2 separate regions of the Homo sapiens genome follow, and region 1 is linked to region 2. A link means that fine-mapping ties the variant in region 2 to the expression of a gene that starts in the linked region. Tissue or cell type: anterior cingulate cortex. Region 2 holds a variant in brackets; the other region holds the start of a gene. All regions are shown on one strand. Distances are from middle to middle.

Region 1 (8,000 bases), 120 kb before region 2:
CACTACGTCGCTGCCTTCTCTCCAGGACTCTTTCGGGGCTCCCCTGCACTGCTGCCTTCTCTCCAGGACTCTCTCCATAGTCCTTGGCCTCCTTGGCTCCCCAACTCTGTCCCCTGTAGCCCAGTGAGGCCACCAGCCTCTCTTGGCCAAAGGCTTATTTACCTCTTTCTCCAGGAATTTCTGTCTCTGCACCTGTTGTCCAGTGTTAGAAAGAGTTGTTTCTCGTATTTTTTGTTCCATGTTTGAGTTGTTTGTGGTGACAGACAAGTCTGGTACCGACTACTTCGTCATGGCCAAAACACCTGACATGTTTTAAATTCTCAATTTGGGGAAGATACATGGGGTTGCTTTTATATATTTTTATATAAAAATATAAATACTATATGCATGTCTTTGTAAACCAGAAATGGTCCCTAATGATGACTAGGGATCCTGGGCTTTGGCGTCAGACAGACCTGGGCTCTAACTGTGGCTGGGCCACTTACCAGCCAGGTAACAAGGGGCAAAACATTTCTCCTCTCAGTTAAGCGGGGGGCATCTGAGGGGCTTTCTGTAAGAATTCACTAAGATGACGCGTGCAAGGCCCCCAGCATGAGGCTGGCACATAGTAGGTGCTTAATGGGAAGTAATGACCTGCTATTTTAGGGTACAAGGAGGAGGGGCATTTGCTCCTCAAACCCAACCTTCTTCCCACCAGCCCGGCCCCCCCAGCCATGGGCCTCCACCCACCCAGCAGAGGCGTCTCTGTCCTCCATCCCACTCACAGCCGCGCCCTTGGGGCCCTTTCCCAGCTGCCTACGGGCTGGAGAGGACACCCATGGAACTGCAGTGGGTAACAGGGCAGCCCAGCGTTGAGGGCCTGAGAACTGAGGGCTGTCATGGCCTTCCCTCCACCCCGTGTGCTCCTTAGGGCCCCAGGGAGGGAGGGGAGCAGGTGGGAGCACCGCCCACTCGGCCTGGCAGGGAGGACAAACCTGCCCAGCAGCCTCAGCTCACCCTCAGCCCTGGACACCTACCCTGGAAGGTCGAGCCAAAAGGCCTCCCGAGGGGCTGCTGGCCTCAGGTACCACCTAAGGCTACGGGCTGTCTGTGCTGTGGCCCCAGTGGCTGAGTAAAAGCTTGGAAAACTCAAAGCAAGGCCCGCAGGAGCTCAGGCCACCTCAAGCCGCAGGAAAGGAGCTCTGCTCCCGCAGATAGAGGTGTGCTTTCTGGCTGGCACACTGGTGCTCGGCCAGAGCGCTGCCCACCCTACAGCAATGCACAGTGGCTGTTAAGCTTGGGGGATCCACATCTTCTCCCCTGCCAGTAATGTGGGAGGGGAAGGCCCCCAGGGCAGGCTGAGCCACAGGCTCGGGATCCCACCACAGAGGTGCAGGAAGTGCCACGGGCCGACCCCACTGGCAGGCCTCCCACTGGCAGGCCTCCCCGGAGTCTCTCTCTCCTTGCGAGCCCCTTAGGTCTCCAAGCTGGTTCCTTCCAACCTCTCCCTTAGGCCTCATGCCAGGGCGATCTCCTGCGCCAGCATCAGGCCCTCATTTACAGCAGAGGTGACAGAGGCACAGAGAGGTCCTGACGCCAGCTCAGGTGACATCCCCAGCAAAGGGACCATCCCAAGCACACGCTGAGTGGCCTCTGGAAGCCAGCAGGACATGGGGAGACGAAGCCAGACCCAGGGTGGCTGAACGGGCCCAGCAGGGGCTGGACAGAAGGTGTGGGGTTGGGGGTAACTTGGAGGCAGCTACTGAAAGAGGGTTTTACAGGAAAGCACTCAGTGGGAATCAGGAACCTGGGTCCTGCTGACTGGCCTGGGGCAAGGCTTCTGTCCCCTCACTGGGCCTCAGTGACCCCACCGCACCTCAGTCCCCTCACGGGTCAAGGCTCCGGGACACCCCAGCTCCCTCCGGCAGGCCGGGCCTCGTCGGTGCAGTACCCATCATGGACTCAGGAGGGCAGCAGCCACCTGCCTTTCCCAAGAGCTGCCTGGAAGTGGAACCTCCCCACAGGCGGCTCCAGGTGGAGGCTGCAGCCCACAGGGGTCAACTCTTAGCTCCTCCCTCATCCACCCTCCCTCCCAGGGGATGGATGGCCCACGGGACCCATCCCTGAGGCCAGCCTGTGCCCTGCCCAGATGGCACCTGACACCCAGGCAGCCCCAGCCACAGGGCAGACATTGGGGGACTAGTGGGTGGGGCGACCAGAGCAGGAGGGGCAGGGCAGGCCGCCCCTCTACCTATGACACCTGAGAAAATGCCAAGTGACAGCCCCAGAGCCTGTGGTGTCTCCTCAACCCGCAACGGGATCTCACGGCCGCCCAGGCCAGGGAGGCAGGTCCTGGGAGGAGGGTGGTCAGTGCCTCTGGCTGGCACACCGGTGCCCGGCCCACGACCCCAAGGCCTGGGGTCAGTGAGGGGACGCTGGTAGAAGCTGACCCAAAGCCCAGTGTGGATGTTCACATGGAGGCCTTTGGCAACAGGCCTTTCCTGAAAAGGGGATGATGGAGGCAGGTCAGAAGTGGGTCTGAGCCCTGGGACCTCAGGTCACATTCCTGAATGGCCAGGCCCAAGCTTGGGAGGCTTGGCTCAGCCCCCAGCCCCTCCCACAGCACCAGGTGGCCTGATTCCTGAACCCCCAGCTGGGGGGCTGCTGCAGCCTCTGCCCGGGGCCCTCCCTCACTTTCACACGGGTTCCCAGCAGGCGGAGCAAGGAAAGGCCAGGCTCGGAGTCCAGGCTCAGCCTTGTGCACGAGGGCGAGCGCCTTCCTTTCCAGGACTCGGTCCTTCTCTGTGAAATGGGGATGACCGCGACTCAACCACACCAAAAAGGTGGCCAGAGTGCTTTGCGCCCTCTTGGCTGTCTTTGGCCGCCTGGCTTCCAAGAATCCAGAGGGCCGGGCCTTTCTACAGCAAACATCGGTCCCCGCAGGGCTGGTCTCCTTCCCCGAAGGCTTCCTGGAGGAGGCAGTGGAGCGGGGCCTGGAAGGACAGTGACGCAGGAGGGAGCCGAGCCGCTCTGGCCCCACGCCTGGCAGGCGACTCCCGGGCCGGCCTCGAGGGGGCGTGGGCGCGGGGAGGGAAGGCGCAGGCACCGGGCGGCGGCGGCTCGGCGGGAATCGAGAGGCGCGATCCAGTCCGGGCGATCACGTGGGCTCCAGCCGGCCCAGGTGGGGCTGTGACCTGTGACGCAGGCGGCGCCGCCACAGGTGCCCGGGACGCGCCCCGCCCCCTCCCCGGCCCTCCCCGCCCGGGCCCTCGGACCCGGAGCAGCCCCGCCCGCCCAGCGCCCACCTGCGGGGCCGCAGCCGCCGCCCTCCAGCCAGACCGCGCAGGAAGCGGAGGAGGCGCCCCGGGCCGGACCGCGCTGCCGCAGGAGCGAAGCGGCTGCAGGACAGGACAGGACCCGGCGCTGGAAGCTGCACCGCCAGCGCGCCGCCCCTCCGTCCCTCCGCCCCGCGGCGCAGGTGAGCCTGGGGGACAGGTGAGCCGGGGGACAGGTGAGTCGGGGCTCGGGGGAGCCGGGTGGGGGGATTAGCCCGGGGGAGGCGCCGGGAACCCGGGGCGCTTCTCCTCCCCCTCGCTTTTCCCGCAAGCCCCGCCCCGGCAGCCGCAACAACTTCGCGACCCTCCTGGGGCTCCGCCGGGGCGGGAGAGGCGGGGCTCGCGGGCTGAGCCGGATGCGACTTTGGACCCGCCCCCCCACACACACCAGGCAGCCCCCTGCTTGCCCCCGCCCGCTCGCTCGCTGCCCTCTCTTGACCCCGAGTGGCCGCTTCCTCTTCCTAAAGGAAAACTTCCATGCAACCGGAACCTGGGTTCAGACTTGAGCGCCGAGGACTCTGGAAGCCCCAGGGAGTTTGAAAGAGCATGGGGTGGGGGGCGGAACAGAACGACCCTCCCGGGAGCTCTTTGGGGAATCTGACACCCAAACCTGCTTTGGCCCCAAAATTTCAGAAAAGCCCCGAGAAGGAAGAACCCCACACCCAAGACAAACCCAAACCATACGCCCCTCCCCCACCCTTGACCTTGGTGGGCGGTGGCAGGGAGGGACCTGCTTTGTCTCCCCTGAGAAGGGAGATGGGGAGGGGGAGGGGTGCGTCCCACCTACCAGGGAGCCGTGGCCGCTTGTCTTGGCCGCTCAGCCTCTTTCTGCGTCTGTGAAATGGGAACAGTATCCCTTTTGAGATTTGAGCAGGTGGGGGGACTGAGGGAGTGGCAGCGATGGCAGGTCTTGGTGACCTCTGCTTCTGACCTGAATCAAGGCCTGAATCTTCTCTGTGTCCTTGAGGGGAACAGTCTGTGCACCACCTAACATGGGGGCCTAGGGGGTGCGTGTGGGCCTGGCTGGGGGTCCAGCAAGAGGGTCCAGGTGCTGTGCCTGGCTGCAGGTCCTGACCCCTCCGTGGCATAGTTCCCAGGTGTGTGGGTTTCAGGCTCACATCCTGGCTCTTTGTGAACTAAGCAGCTCTTGGGGCCTCGGTTTCCTCATCCGTAAAATGGGACTAGTAGGAGTGTTGAGTTAGAAGATGTTGACCCACAAGTGTGCCAGGCAGACGTGGACCCTGCTGTGCGATGCCCACAGCCAGCAGAGGGGAACAGGGTGAGATGAAAGGTACTGTCCAGAGCAGGAGCCATGGGCTGAAGGTAGGCACTCCTCACCCACCCCAGTCTTGCTGGAAGGGAGGTGTCTTGGGGGCTTCCTGGAAGAAGTAAGTCACCTGGACCAAAGTCACCTGGAGGGTGGGATGGGCCCTCCCTCCACCTGGACACTGGGGAGAAACCCTTGTTGGGGGGCCTCCCTGAGGTCGCTGGCTCTTCGGGGGCCATCTCTGACCCACAGGACCACCCTATGTGGGAAGCACTTTCCACCTACACATGAGGAAACTGAGGCACAGAGGTGAAGCAGTGAGAAGCGGCGTGCCAGGGTCCCCACAGCTCACATGTGACGCGCAGGTCCCCATCCTGAGGATGGCCATCTGTGTTCACGTTGTGATCCAGGCGCAGGCGCTCCCCGCGAGTTTGGGTCTGAGTTTTAGTTTTGGTTTCCAGATGGATCTGGGCTGCTCCTGTCCTTAGCACAGGGGACCATCCGTCTGGAGCAGCGTCCTTATTTCTAGTGACTCCCTGGCTGAGGCCAGAACCCCCACTCCCCCCGGTCCCCATTTGGGGACAGCCATCCAGGTCAGGACAGGGCCTGGCCAGCAGTCCCACCCCCGCAGGCCACATTCCCTCTGCACCTGGTTTCCTTACCTGCCCGGGAAAATACCCACCTTCCAGAAGTTTGGGGAGGGGCAGAAGACAGTGGATGACAGGGCATTCAGAGGGCACTGTCTGTGTGTCTGTCCTACAGCGGGTGAACGGGTGGCAGGAGACCTGTCACCCACACGGGCACCTGTCAGAGGCAGGCTCTGATTCCCACCCTTTGGGGGAACCCCGTGAGTGGCAGCAGAGCCAGGGACAGCAGCTGGGTTTATGGGATGTCTCATTCAGAGCCGGAGCTGGGGAGTGACTGGAATGCACTTTGGGCTGAACCAGCTATGTCCAGGTGGGAGGGCCAGGTGCACTTCCCCGCCCCCACCGCGCAGGGTGGCTCTCTGCTTAGCTGCCTAGGATTTCCCTACCGCAGCCCTAGGGACCTTGATCCAGATAACAGGTCTCTCCAGCAGCCTTGCCAACCAGTAGCCAGGACTCCTGACTACCAGCAGTGTCCCCAGACGTTGGCAAATGTGCCCTGGGGGCCAAAACTGCCCCAGTGAAGGCCGCAGAGCCAAATCCCTGGCCACCTTGCAAACGGAGCTGGCTGATGTGTGCTGCATGATTTGCAAAAGCAAGTCCTCCCCCCGATTATGTGACTGAGTCCGAAGTTTGACGGGCAGAATTACCGGAGTACAAGGGCATCATTGTAGCTTGAGTTTGCCTTCACTGAGGTTGGATGGACAGGTGCTAGAGAGGCCGCGCCCCACTGGGCCGAGTGGGGTCAGCCGGACCTAGAGGCCAGGGTAGGAGGGACAGAAATGCCTGAGGGTGGGACCACATGAAGCTGGAGGCCTGTGCAACATCCTAACCGGAGGGGCAGCAAACTTGGGGCAATTGGGTCCTGGTGGCCGTGACAGCAGCTGTGCCCAGAGCCCAAGGCGCTGGCTGGGAGATTGTACTGCTATGGGGATGCTGGAGGCACGGGGCTGGCGCCCACTAGACTCACTAGAAGCCCATCTCTCCGGAAGGATAAGGGGGCAGGAGGGCGGGGCTACAGAGCGGCCCACCCAACCAACACTGGGTCCGAGATCCAGCAGATCAGCCAAGGCCAAGTACGGACAGGAACGGACAGGCTGGGCAGGGGGCCCTGAGACTGGCCAGCGACCACAGATTCCACCTGCTTGGACCGGCCAGGCGGGGGCCCCTGAGACTGCCCAGAGACCATGGATTCCGCCTGCTCGCCTCTGCTGCACGCCTCCTCCTGGCAAGTCCCTCATGCCCCATAACTATATGTGTTGGGGATACCAGGTGGGGTATTTAGTGGTAAAGAGAAAAGAGAGAGTTCTGGGCCCCAGGGCTCAGCCATGGGAGGTCCTTTCCAGCCCACCCTGAGGAGAAGCAGCAGGAAGTCGCCCAAAAAGTGGCACAGATGGGCCCAGAACCTCTATGGGGCTGCCCTGGCCCAGCCTCTGCTCATTTTGAGCCAAGTCCCCTTGCAAGTTGGTTCTTGGCACGGAACACCAGGGCCTCTCTGGGAAGACACAGAATCAAGGTACTAGGAGACCAGGGCAGAGCACGTGCCGAGGCAGGCATTTGCTCTTCAGTGTGGAATCTGAGCCCGACTGTGGGGACACGAACAGGAAACTGTCCCTGCCCCGCAAGGGCTCACAGACATGGGGAGACAGGACAGCCAGCCAGCCAGCCTGCGGCTCCCTCTGCCCTGTGCATGCCCTGTGCTAAGCCCCCACTCAGCAAGTCAGGGCTGCCTTTGCTGGGGAGCAGATCTGCCACTGGCCCACGTGGCTGCTGCAGGAAATCTGACCTCTCTCTGTGGCACTGCAGCCGGGACAGCATGGCCAGCTGCTGAAAGGAGTCTGCCCTCTCAGCCCCTCCCCTTCACTGGCTCCACCAGGAGCCGACCAGCATCTCAGTGAGGAAATGGAAAGAGGCCACTGTAGAAACCAGCCGGCCTGCAGGACAGGCTTCAGGATATGGACCTGGCATGGGGCTGGGGGTCCCATTGGGCCCTCCCGGTCAGACACCTGTGCTCAGGGTGTGTGCACTTGGACCTCCCGCCATCATAAGGCCTGTCTCCTCAATAGAAGCAGAAACAATCAACCACCAGCAGCAGATGTTTGAGGAAAGCCCTGTGCCTGAGAGACAGAGGCCAGCAGAGGCGGAGACAGGAGGAAGTATGTGGCAGGGGCGCAGCTCCAGCAGCCAGCGACAGAAAGAAAGAAACTCGCTCCAAAGAAAATGTAATCCTTCCTCTCTAAGACAATAGAAGATGTTACACCCATAAAGCAAGAGCAGGATGCCAGGAATGAAGAGCAGAGGGCTCTTTGAGGATAATGAAAATGATAAGACCAGGGGCCAATAAGAAGTCCAAGTAGAGAAAACCTCACACAGAGAACAAAGTAGGGGAGGAAAGGTAAGGAATTAGGAGAAAACACCAGAGCTTAATACTCATTAGTGGGTATTCCAAAAAGAGAAAACAGAGTGGAAGAAATAATATGAAAATCTGCGCAGCCCTAGACAAGAGTGACCGCCTGGCAGGGTTCCACCCAGTGCCTGGCTCAGTGGACTAACATGGACCCTACGGGGGCACATCAGCACGACAATCAGAGCTCCCAGGCTGGCTCAGTGAACGAACACGGACCCTACCGAGGCACATCAGCAAGACAGCCAGAGCTCCCAGGCTCCAGCAGGTGCGCCAGACCCTCAGTGGGGCCAGGGAGAACCACACACCGGTTGTGATCCGAGAAAGAGATCGGGACATTGGGGCCCTTCCCCAGCAACTCTGACAACAAG
Region 2 (8,255 bases):
CCCTCCCTCCAGCCATCCCCCGGGGCCACCCAGTCTCTCCCCTCCACCAATCCCCAGGGACAGGGCCCCAGGGAGGCTGTGGCACACGGGGACACACACACCACAGCCCTATCTCCCCCTCTGAGCCGGCTCAGCACCAGCTTGTCTTCATGGCTGACACCTCCATGTTCCTCGGGGGCCTCCAGGGACCCCATTAACTGTGAGCACAGACAGCCAACAGCCTGGGGAGCAGGACACAGAGAGAGGGTCTGGGGGACCAGGGGTGGCCCTGGGCCATCCCACAAGGAGGGGACAGCCATGGCCAGTGGCTGGGTTTTCTGATGGTCCAGAAACCAGAGAGTGCTCCTCCAAGCCTGGAACCCAGAACAGCCAGGAAGGGCAGGAGTCAATGAGGCATCTCCCAGCCCAGGTGTCAGGTGTCCGGTGCTTGTAGGACACGACCCCACCATGGAGGCCAGAAGCCTGTTCTTGCTCTCAGAGGACTCCCACCCCCGAGCACAGAGAGCAGGAAAACACCGAGACCAAGGCCAGCCTGCCCCAAAGGCCAGAGAGCAAGGTTCCTGAGTAAGGACATCCCCCCCAGACACGCTGGGTCCTCCCCAAGGGTGCTGGGTCCTCCCGGCTCCAAAGGCCAGAGAGCAAGGTTCCTGGGTGAGGGTGTCCCCCCAGACACACTGAGTCCTCCCCAAGGGTGCTGGGTCTTCCCCCCAAGTGTGCTGGGTCCTTCCTGCATATGCTGGGTCATTTCCTGGTATGCTGGCCCTGCTGGGTGTGCTGGGTCCTTCCTGGGTGTGCTAGGTCCTTCCTGCATATGCTGGTTCCTTCCTGGCGTGCTGGGTTCTCCTGGGTGTGCTGGGTCCTTGCGGGTGCACTGGGTCTTCCCTGGTGTGCTGGGTCCCCGTGGGTGTGCTGAGTCCTTTCCAGGTGTGCTGGGTCCTCCTGGGTGTGCTGGGTCCTGCTGGGTGTGCTAGGTCCTCCTGGGTGTGCTGGGTCCTCCTGGGTGTCCTGGGTCCTGCCAGGTGTGCTGGGTCCTCCTGGGTGTGCTGGGTCCTTCAGGGTGTACTGGGTCCTCCTGGGTGTGCTGGGTCCTCCTGGGTGTGCTGGGTCCTTCCTGGGTGTGCTGGGTTCTCCTGGGTGTGCTGGGTCCTTCCTGAGTGTGCTAGGTCCTTCCCGGGTGTGCTGGGTCTTTCCTGGGTGTGCTGGGTCCTTCCTGGTATGCTGGGTCCTCCCGGGTGTGCTGGGTCCTTCCTGAGTGTGTTAGGTTCTCCCAGCTATGCTGGGTTCTCTCAGGTGTGCTGGGTCCTCCTGGGTGTGCTGGGTCCTCCTGGGTGTGCTGGGTCCTTCCTGAGTGTGCTAGGTCCTTCCCGAGTGTGCTGGGTTCTCTCAGGTGTGCTGGGTCCTCCTGGGTGTGCTGGGTCCTCCTGGGTGTGCTGGGTCCTTCCTGGGTGTGCTGGGTCCTCCTGGGTGTGCTGGGTTCTCTCAGGTGTGCTGGGTCCTCCTGGGTGTGCTGGGTTCTCTCAGGTGTGCTGGGTCCTCCTGGGTGTGCTGGGTTCTCTCAGGTGTGCTGGGTCCTCCTGGGTGTGCTGGGTCCTTCCTGGGTGTGCTGGGTCCTTCCTGGGTGTGCTGGGTCCTCCCGGGTGTGCTGAGTCCTTCCTGAGTGTGTTAGGTTCTCCCAGGTATGCTGGGTTCTCTCAGGTATGCTGGGTCCTTCCTGTGTGTGATGGGTTCTCCTGAGTATGCTGGGTCCTCCTGGGTGTGCTGGGTCCTTCCTGGGTGTGCTGGGTCCTTCCTGGTGTACTGGGTCCTCCCAGGTGTGCTGGGTCCTTCCTGAGTGTGTTAGGTTCTCCCAGGTATGCTGGGTTCTCTCAGGTGTGCTGGGTCCTTCCTGTGTGTGCTGGGTTCTCCTGCGTATGCTGGGTCCTTCCTGGGTGTGCTGGGTCCTCCCTGTGTGTGCTGGGTTCTCCTGGGTGTGCTGGGTCCTTCCTGGGTGTGCTGGGTTCTCCTGGGTGTGCTGGGTCCTTCCTGGGTGTGCTGGGTTCTCCTGGGTGTGCTGGGTCCTTCCTGGGTGTGCTGGGTTCTTCTGGGTGTACTGAGTCCTTCCTGGGTGTGCTGGGTTCTCCTGGGTGTGCTGGGTCTTTCCTGGGTGTGCTGGGTTCTCCTGGGTATGCTGAGTTCTCTTGGGTGTGCTGGGTCCTCCCTGGTGGGCTGGGTTCCCTCAGGTGTGCTGGGTCCTTCCTGGTATGCTGGGTCCTCCTGTGTGTGCTGGGTCCTCCCTGGTGGGCTGTGTTCCCTCAGGTGTGCTGGGTCCTCCCTGGTATGCTGGGTCCTCCTGCGTGTGCTGCGTCCTTCCTGTGTGTGCTGGGTTCCCCCAGGTTTGCTGGGTCCTCCCAGGTGTGCTGGGTCCCCCCGCCAGGTAACCCCTAGTCCTCCTGGGGCATGCTAGGATCATTTCTCACACCAGACACAAAAAGCCTCCCCCAGGGTGGCCTCCTGGCTGAGCCAGCTCCAGGCCCAGATGGAAACCTTCTGCTTGGCTGCACCCAAAGGTAAGCACGGGAAACAGTGCGGGGAGCCTGGAACTACAGCCCAGGACCAGGGTCAGGTTAACCCGAGGCCACGTCCACAGGACAAAGCTGAGATGCCTCCCCAGGAATCAGCCCAGGCTGGGGCTGCTGCAGGCTGCAGGCCTCTGGACAAGGTCCCATGGCAGGGAGCAGGACCAGAGACAGCCCCAGCTCCAGCTCCAGCCAGGGAGTGCACAACATGGAGAGAGGCTGTGAAAAGAACATCCCTGCCCCAGAGCCCGCCCTTCCAGGAGCCCCGTCCTCCCCTCCCACCACTCCCTGGGGCACAGAGTCTGAGTCTGGCAGCGGCAGCTCCCAGGCCTGGCCGTGGCTGGTCGCCAAGAGCAGCCCTGGGTGGCGTCTGGAGCTCGGGCGAGGGGTCAGACTCCCACCCTCAGACACAGTGGGCAGCATTGAAAGGCAGTGGGGAGGGCCGCTTCCTCTCCATTAATCAATGGTCCCAGTTTAGAAACAGTCGCCCTGAGCCAACGCCAAGGGCTAAACGGGCTCAGGACACCACCCAGTCCTAGCCACCCAACCTTCTCCAAGGCTCTGCTTCCTGGCATAGCCTCAGGGCCCCAACAGCTGCCAGAGCCACCTCCAGCCCACACCCGAGAGGCCC[ACACCCGAGAGACCCC/A]CACTGAGGGCCTCCTGCTTGAGGCAGGGAAACCGAGGTTTCCTTCAAAGGTGCAGGACTCAGAGTGGGCCTGGGTGCTGAGGCTCCAGGCAGGACCACTGATGTCTCCCCCGGCTTGGCAGGCACACAGCAGGTACCCAGGAGCACCTGCCAGCTGGCCCCCAGCAACGCCTGGCTCCATCTCACCGAGAGAGGCCGAGGACCTTCTAGAAGCTTGGCTGACCCTTCCTTCATTCCCGACCCCGTACCTCAGGGCCAAAATGACTTTCTCCTCTGCTCTGCTCCTCTGCTCCTGTCTCTGTCCTGTCTGGAAACTTGTCCGGAACAAATTGCACCTCCCAAACCTTCCCCAGCCCACAGGCCCACCTCCTCCAGGAAGCCCTTGGGGCAGCCAAGCCTCTGATGGGCATCACTGGAACCCTGACCACTCACCTGGACCCAGGAGTGAGGGTGGCAACACTCTAGTGTGGTGGTGCTGGAGACCCGTCTGATCTGCCCCTTTGACTGGTGCCGGGGGTGGGGGGGTGGGAACTGAGGCCCAAAAGGGAATCAGAGCCAAAGGTTACTATTTATTTATTTACTTATTTATCTATTGAGACAGGGTCTTGCTCTGTCAGCTAGGCTGGAGTCCAGTGGCGCAATCTTGGCTCACTGCAACCTCCACCTCCCAGGTTCAATCAATCCTCCTGCCTCAGCCTCCTGGGTAGCTGGAATTAGAGGCGCCCGCCACCACACCTGGCTAATTTTTGTATTTTTGGTAGAGACGGGGTTTCACCATGTTGCTCAGGCTGGTCTCGAACTCCTGAGCTCAAGTGATACACGTGCCTCGGCCTCCCAAAGGACTGGGATTACAGGTGTGAGCCACCACGCCTGGCTTGAGCCAAAGGTTCTTGAACCAAGAAAGTACCTAGAGGTGACCCAGGCCTCATTTCTCAGAGCCTGCCCTTGTCCCATGAGGTCAGCTGAGACCAGATCAAGAGATCTGTAGAGACTTTTGTGACTTCGTGTACTACAAAAGACAAATCTATTAGGAGGTCATTTGTTCTCAGTAACTTTTTCTTGCTGGTCTTTTCATTACCAATTCTGAGCCAAGCCCAGGTCACCAGTGGGTGTTGGGGAAGGGGTGGGGGCATCCATCCACGCTTGCCAGAGCAGCGCACACAGGTGGGACCCGGGTGCAAAGGCAGGAAGAGGCCAGGTTTTCAGCTGTGAAAACTGTTCCTGGTTGGTCTGATGAAACTGATACTCTGATGGGACCCCAAAGTCCTCCCAGGGACAGGGGAGGGGGTCTTTAGAGTCCCCCTCGCTCCTTTGCAGACCCACAGGGCAAGGAAACTGGCAGTCCTGGGGGATCTTCCAAACCCTGGACCACTCTGGGAGACTCCACATGGCAGCTGGGTGCTCTTGTGTAATTACCCCAAGAGCCAGGGTATTAGTCCGTTTTCCAACTGCTGACATACCCTAGACTGGGCAATTTACAAAAGAAAGAGGTTTAATGGACTTACAGTTCCACGTGGCTGGGGAGGCCTCACAATCATGGCAGAAGGCAAGGAGGAGCAAGTCACATCTTACATGGATGGCAGCAGGCAAAGAGAGAGAGCTTGTGCGGGGAAACTCCCCCTTATAAACCATCAGATCTCATGAGACTTATTCACTATCACGAGAACAGCACGGGAAAGACCTGCCCCCATGACTCAACCACCTTCCACTGGGTCCCTCCCATGACACGTGGGAATTATGGGACATACAAGATGAGATTTCGGTAGGGACACAGCCAAACCATATCAGCTGGGGACAAAGTCTGCACCTGAGCCATCACAATGGTTGTCCCTGCCATGACCCCCACTTCCCGACCCTTCTGCCAGGCCCACTCCGGGCCTCACCTACGTGGACTCACGCAACCTGCACAAAACATCGCCAAATCTCCTCCCTGCTGAACAGAAGGGGGACTGGGGTCCAAGAGGTGGAGTAGGTTACCCCGGTCACACAGGCACAGGCCTGGGGAACACCAAAGCCAGCCCTGGACAAAATGAGCGGCTGGCCCTGACTGTGACTGCGCCGAGGCCTGCACTGGGCCGGGGAAGCCTTCACTGCAGGGCCTGCCCAGCGCCGGGCCCTCCACCCTCCGGGCAGACAGGCCCGCTTTGTGCTCCCACGGCTCCCGCTGCTTCTGCGGAAGGGCTCCCAGGGCCTCAGGGAAACACTGCTGCAAAGTCCCCGCCCGCTGCAGACCCGAGACTTGCCATCTGGGCCAAGGAGGGAGAGCTGGGGCTGTGGGCAGCAGGGAGGGCTCCTTCCCCCCACTGCCCTCCATAGCTGCCCAGAGAGTTCCTGTCTCCCTCCCCAACTCCTTTGTTCAAATGAAATAATTTGGGGGAACCAGAAAATATGGCTTTTATTTTCAAAACTGGAATCAATTATAATTGGGGGGTTAGTGAAATATTCCCAACTGCGTTTGAGCTCAGGTCTGCAGTCCCCAGACCCAGAGTGGAGGAGGGACAGGAAGGTGATGGTGAGAGGTCTAGGTGGGAGCACTATGGGCAGGGGCTACACCTGCAGGCAGCACCCCCTCAGCCCTGGTCCTGCACACCTGGCCCTGCAAACCCGGCCTGCACACTCAGCCCTGCACACTCAGTCCTGTACACTCAGTCCTGCACCCTCAGCCCTGCACACTCCACCCTGCATGCCCAGCCCTGCACATTCCACCCCTGCACACCTGGCCCTGCACACTCCACCCCTGCAGGCCTGGCCCTGCACATCCAGCTCTACACACTCCATCCTGCATGCCCAGCCCTGCACACTCCACCCCCGCACACCTGGCCCTGCACACTCCACCCCTGCACACCTGGCCCTGCACACTCCACCCCTGCACACCTGGCCCTGCACATCCAGCTCTGCACACTCCATCCTGCATGCCCAGCCCTGCACACTCCACCCCTGCACACCTGGCCCTGCACACTCCACCCCTGCACACCTGGCCCTGCACACCCAGCTCTACACACTCCATCCTGAATGTCCAGCCCTGCATAATTGAGCCCCGCACCCTCGGCTCTGCACACCCAGCCTCCATACCCTCCCCTTCTTCCGAGAGAGTGACCAGCGAGGAGGCCGGGCAGCCACCCTCCAGCTTGTCAACTGCCCCCTGTGAAGGCCACGTCTGCCCCAACTGGCCACTCTCCCAGGAGGCCCGCTACCCAAGGGCCACAAGCCAGCCACAGGGGAGGATGCTCCTGCCCTGCAGGGGACCCTGCTCCCCTCTCCTCCAAAGCAAATCTCAACAGCTCCCCCGGGACCAAGGCTTGTCCCTGCACCAGGTGGCAGCATGGCCAGAAGGGAGCACATGGCACTCCTCAGACAGACCTGGCTTCAGCCCCAACTAGGCTGCTTGTGAGCTGAGCACCAGCAGCTGCTGGGTCTCCTCAACCTTGCTTTCCTCTTTCATGAAGCAAATGAAGTGTGGAGCTGATGAGGTGACGCAGGCAGAGAGTGGCCCAGAGCCAGGAGGGAGCTCCCAGCCTCCAGCCTCCCTGCTCTGCGGTGCGTTCCCACGGTGACTGGGGCATGGGGCTGCTGCTGTGGATGCTGAGCCCCGGGCCCAGGCACCGTGAGAGTCTGTGACACAGAAGTCAGAGCCAAGAGGCTGGTGGGGCGCAGGGAACCTGAGTGCACCCCACCCCCAAGCACCCAAGCATGGGCATCTGAGCCCACTCCGCAGTGCTGGCCTGGGCCTGGGGAAGACAGGCCCCTCCCACTGGGCATGGAGCCCCCCCAACAATGCCAAACCCCCAAAGATGCAGAGCCCTCGCCCCACGCTGGACACTGAGCCTCCACGAGACGCCGAGTTCCCCCACAGGGTGTGCAGCCCGCAGTGAGCCTCCTGCAAGCCCTGTGCCTGCCGATGCCCCGGGGTCCACGCGTCAGGGTCTCATGGAGCAGGGGGCTTGGAGCTGGCTCCTGACAAAGATGAGGTGGGAGGAGGGGACTGACGGTGGGCAGAAGGCCAGCCCTGAGGGGGCAGGTCAGGTGTCCTCCCTCCCCTCCCAGAGGACACGGCCAGGAAAGGCCACCCCGCAAGGCCACCTCCTCCTCGCCCTCCCCTAGGAACAGAGACCACAGGAGGCTCTGCTTGGCCGACCAGTGAGCCACAGCCCCGTCCCGGAAACCTCCCCAGCCTGCCCAGTCAGCCCTGGTATTTCCGCGTGAAACCAAAGTCAAGCGGCGCACATTGCCAAAAGATTAGACAAATGAGACGGAAAGGCCCTCGGGACATTTCTCAACTCCCACCTGTGGCCAAATGACAGCTCCCAAGAAGCCAAACGTGACAGTGGAGCCCACTCCATCCTGTGTGGACCCCACCTGTCCTCGGAACAGGGATGGGTCACCTCTGACCAGCCCGCAGAGGGACCACAGGGAGGCCTGGCCAAGGCCTGCAGCCTGGATGTCACAGGGCAATGACAGGGCAGGGGCCCTGGGGGGGGGGGGCCCTTTCGTCCACACGAGACAGACAGATCTCAGTCCATGGTCACTGCAGCAGCCCTCCCAGCCACCCAGCATCCAGGAAGCAGCAGGCACTCGCGGTGACTCGGCAGGGGCCGTCCCAGCTAACAGAGGACATTCAATAAACCCTCCAGCACCAACTGTCCGCCTTTCCAACAATGGCCAATGCCCCAGGCTGCTGGCACCCAGCTCAGAACTCTGGGGAGACCCAGCACCTCTGCAGAACCCCTCCTCAGCCTGGTCCCCAGCGGAACGTGGAGTGGGCAGGAGTGTCACCCAGCTCAGAACGCTGGGGAGACCCAGCACCTCTGCAGAACCCCTCCTCAGCCCGGCCCCCAGCGCAACGTGGAGTGGGCAGGGGTGTCCTTCACAAACACGGGGACCTCCTGATTCATCCGATTTCCTCGAATCGCTTCCTGCTGCCTGCCTGGGCACCGGAGTGCATCTCTCGCTCTGCCCTGGCATCTGCCTGGCATGGAGCCCCGGTGGCCACCACACGAGCAGTCCCAAAGCCCCAGGGCCACTGGGAGTGTTTCATGCCATCGGGACGGCCGTGG

Alleles and levels. Positions count from the first base shown, and alleles are read on the strand shown. Sizes are in standard deviations (SD) of each study's normalised expression.
As copies of ACACCCGAGAGACCCC replace A in region 2, the expression in anterior cingulate cortex of the gene that starts at base 3,311 in region 1 goes up (large effect, 1.4 SD a copy in GTEx).

Evidence for each region. PIP is the estimated chance that this variant, and not a neighbour inherited with it, causes the effect.
Region 1: ARHGEF16 starts here. The variant in region 2 is fine-mapped to the expression of ARHGEF16 in anterior cingulate cortex (GTEx, PIP above 0.99).

Annotation. Positions count from the first base shown.
Region 1 is chr1:3,451,355-3,459,354 of GRCh38, forward strand. ARHGEF16 (Rho guanine nucleotide exchange factor 16) reads left to right here and starts at 3,311. Exons shown (of 15, transcript NM_014448.4): 1 at 3,311-3,457. RefSeq lists enhancers at 1,393-2,145, 5,907-6,658, 7,178-7,347.
Region 2 is chr1:3,570,866-3,579,120 of GRCh38, forward strand. The region is part of intron 4 of MEGF6 (multiple EGF like domains 6); the gene reads right to left. Among named protein-coding and RNA genes, the nearest start is that of MIR551A, 14 kb to the left of the region's middle. RefSeq lists an enhancer at 6,098-6,597. The variant ACACCCGAGAGACCCC/A (reference allele first, on the strand shown) is at 3,187.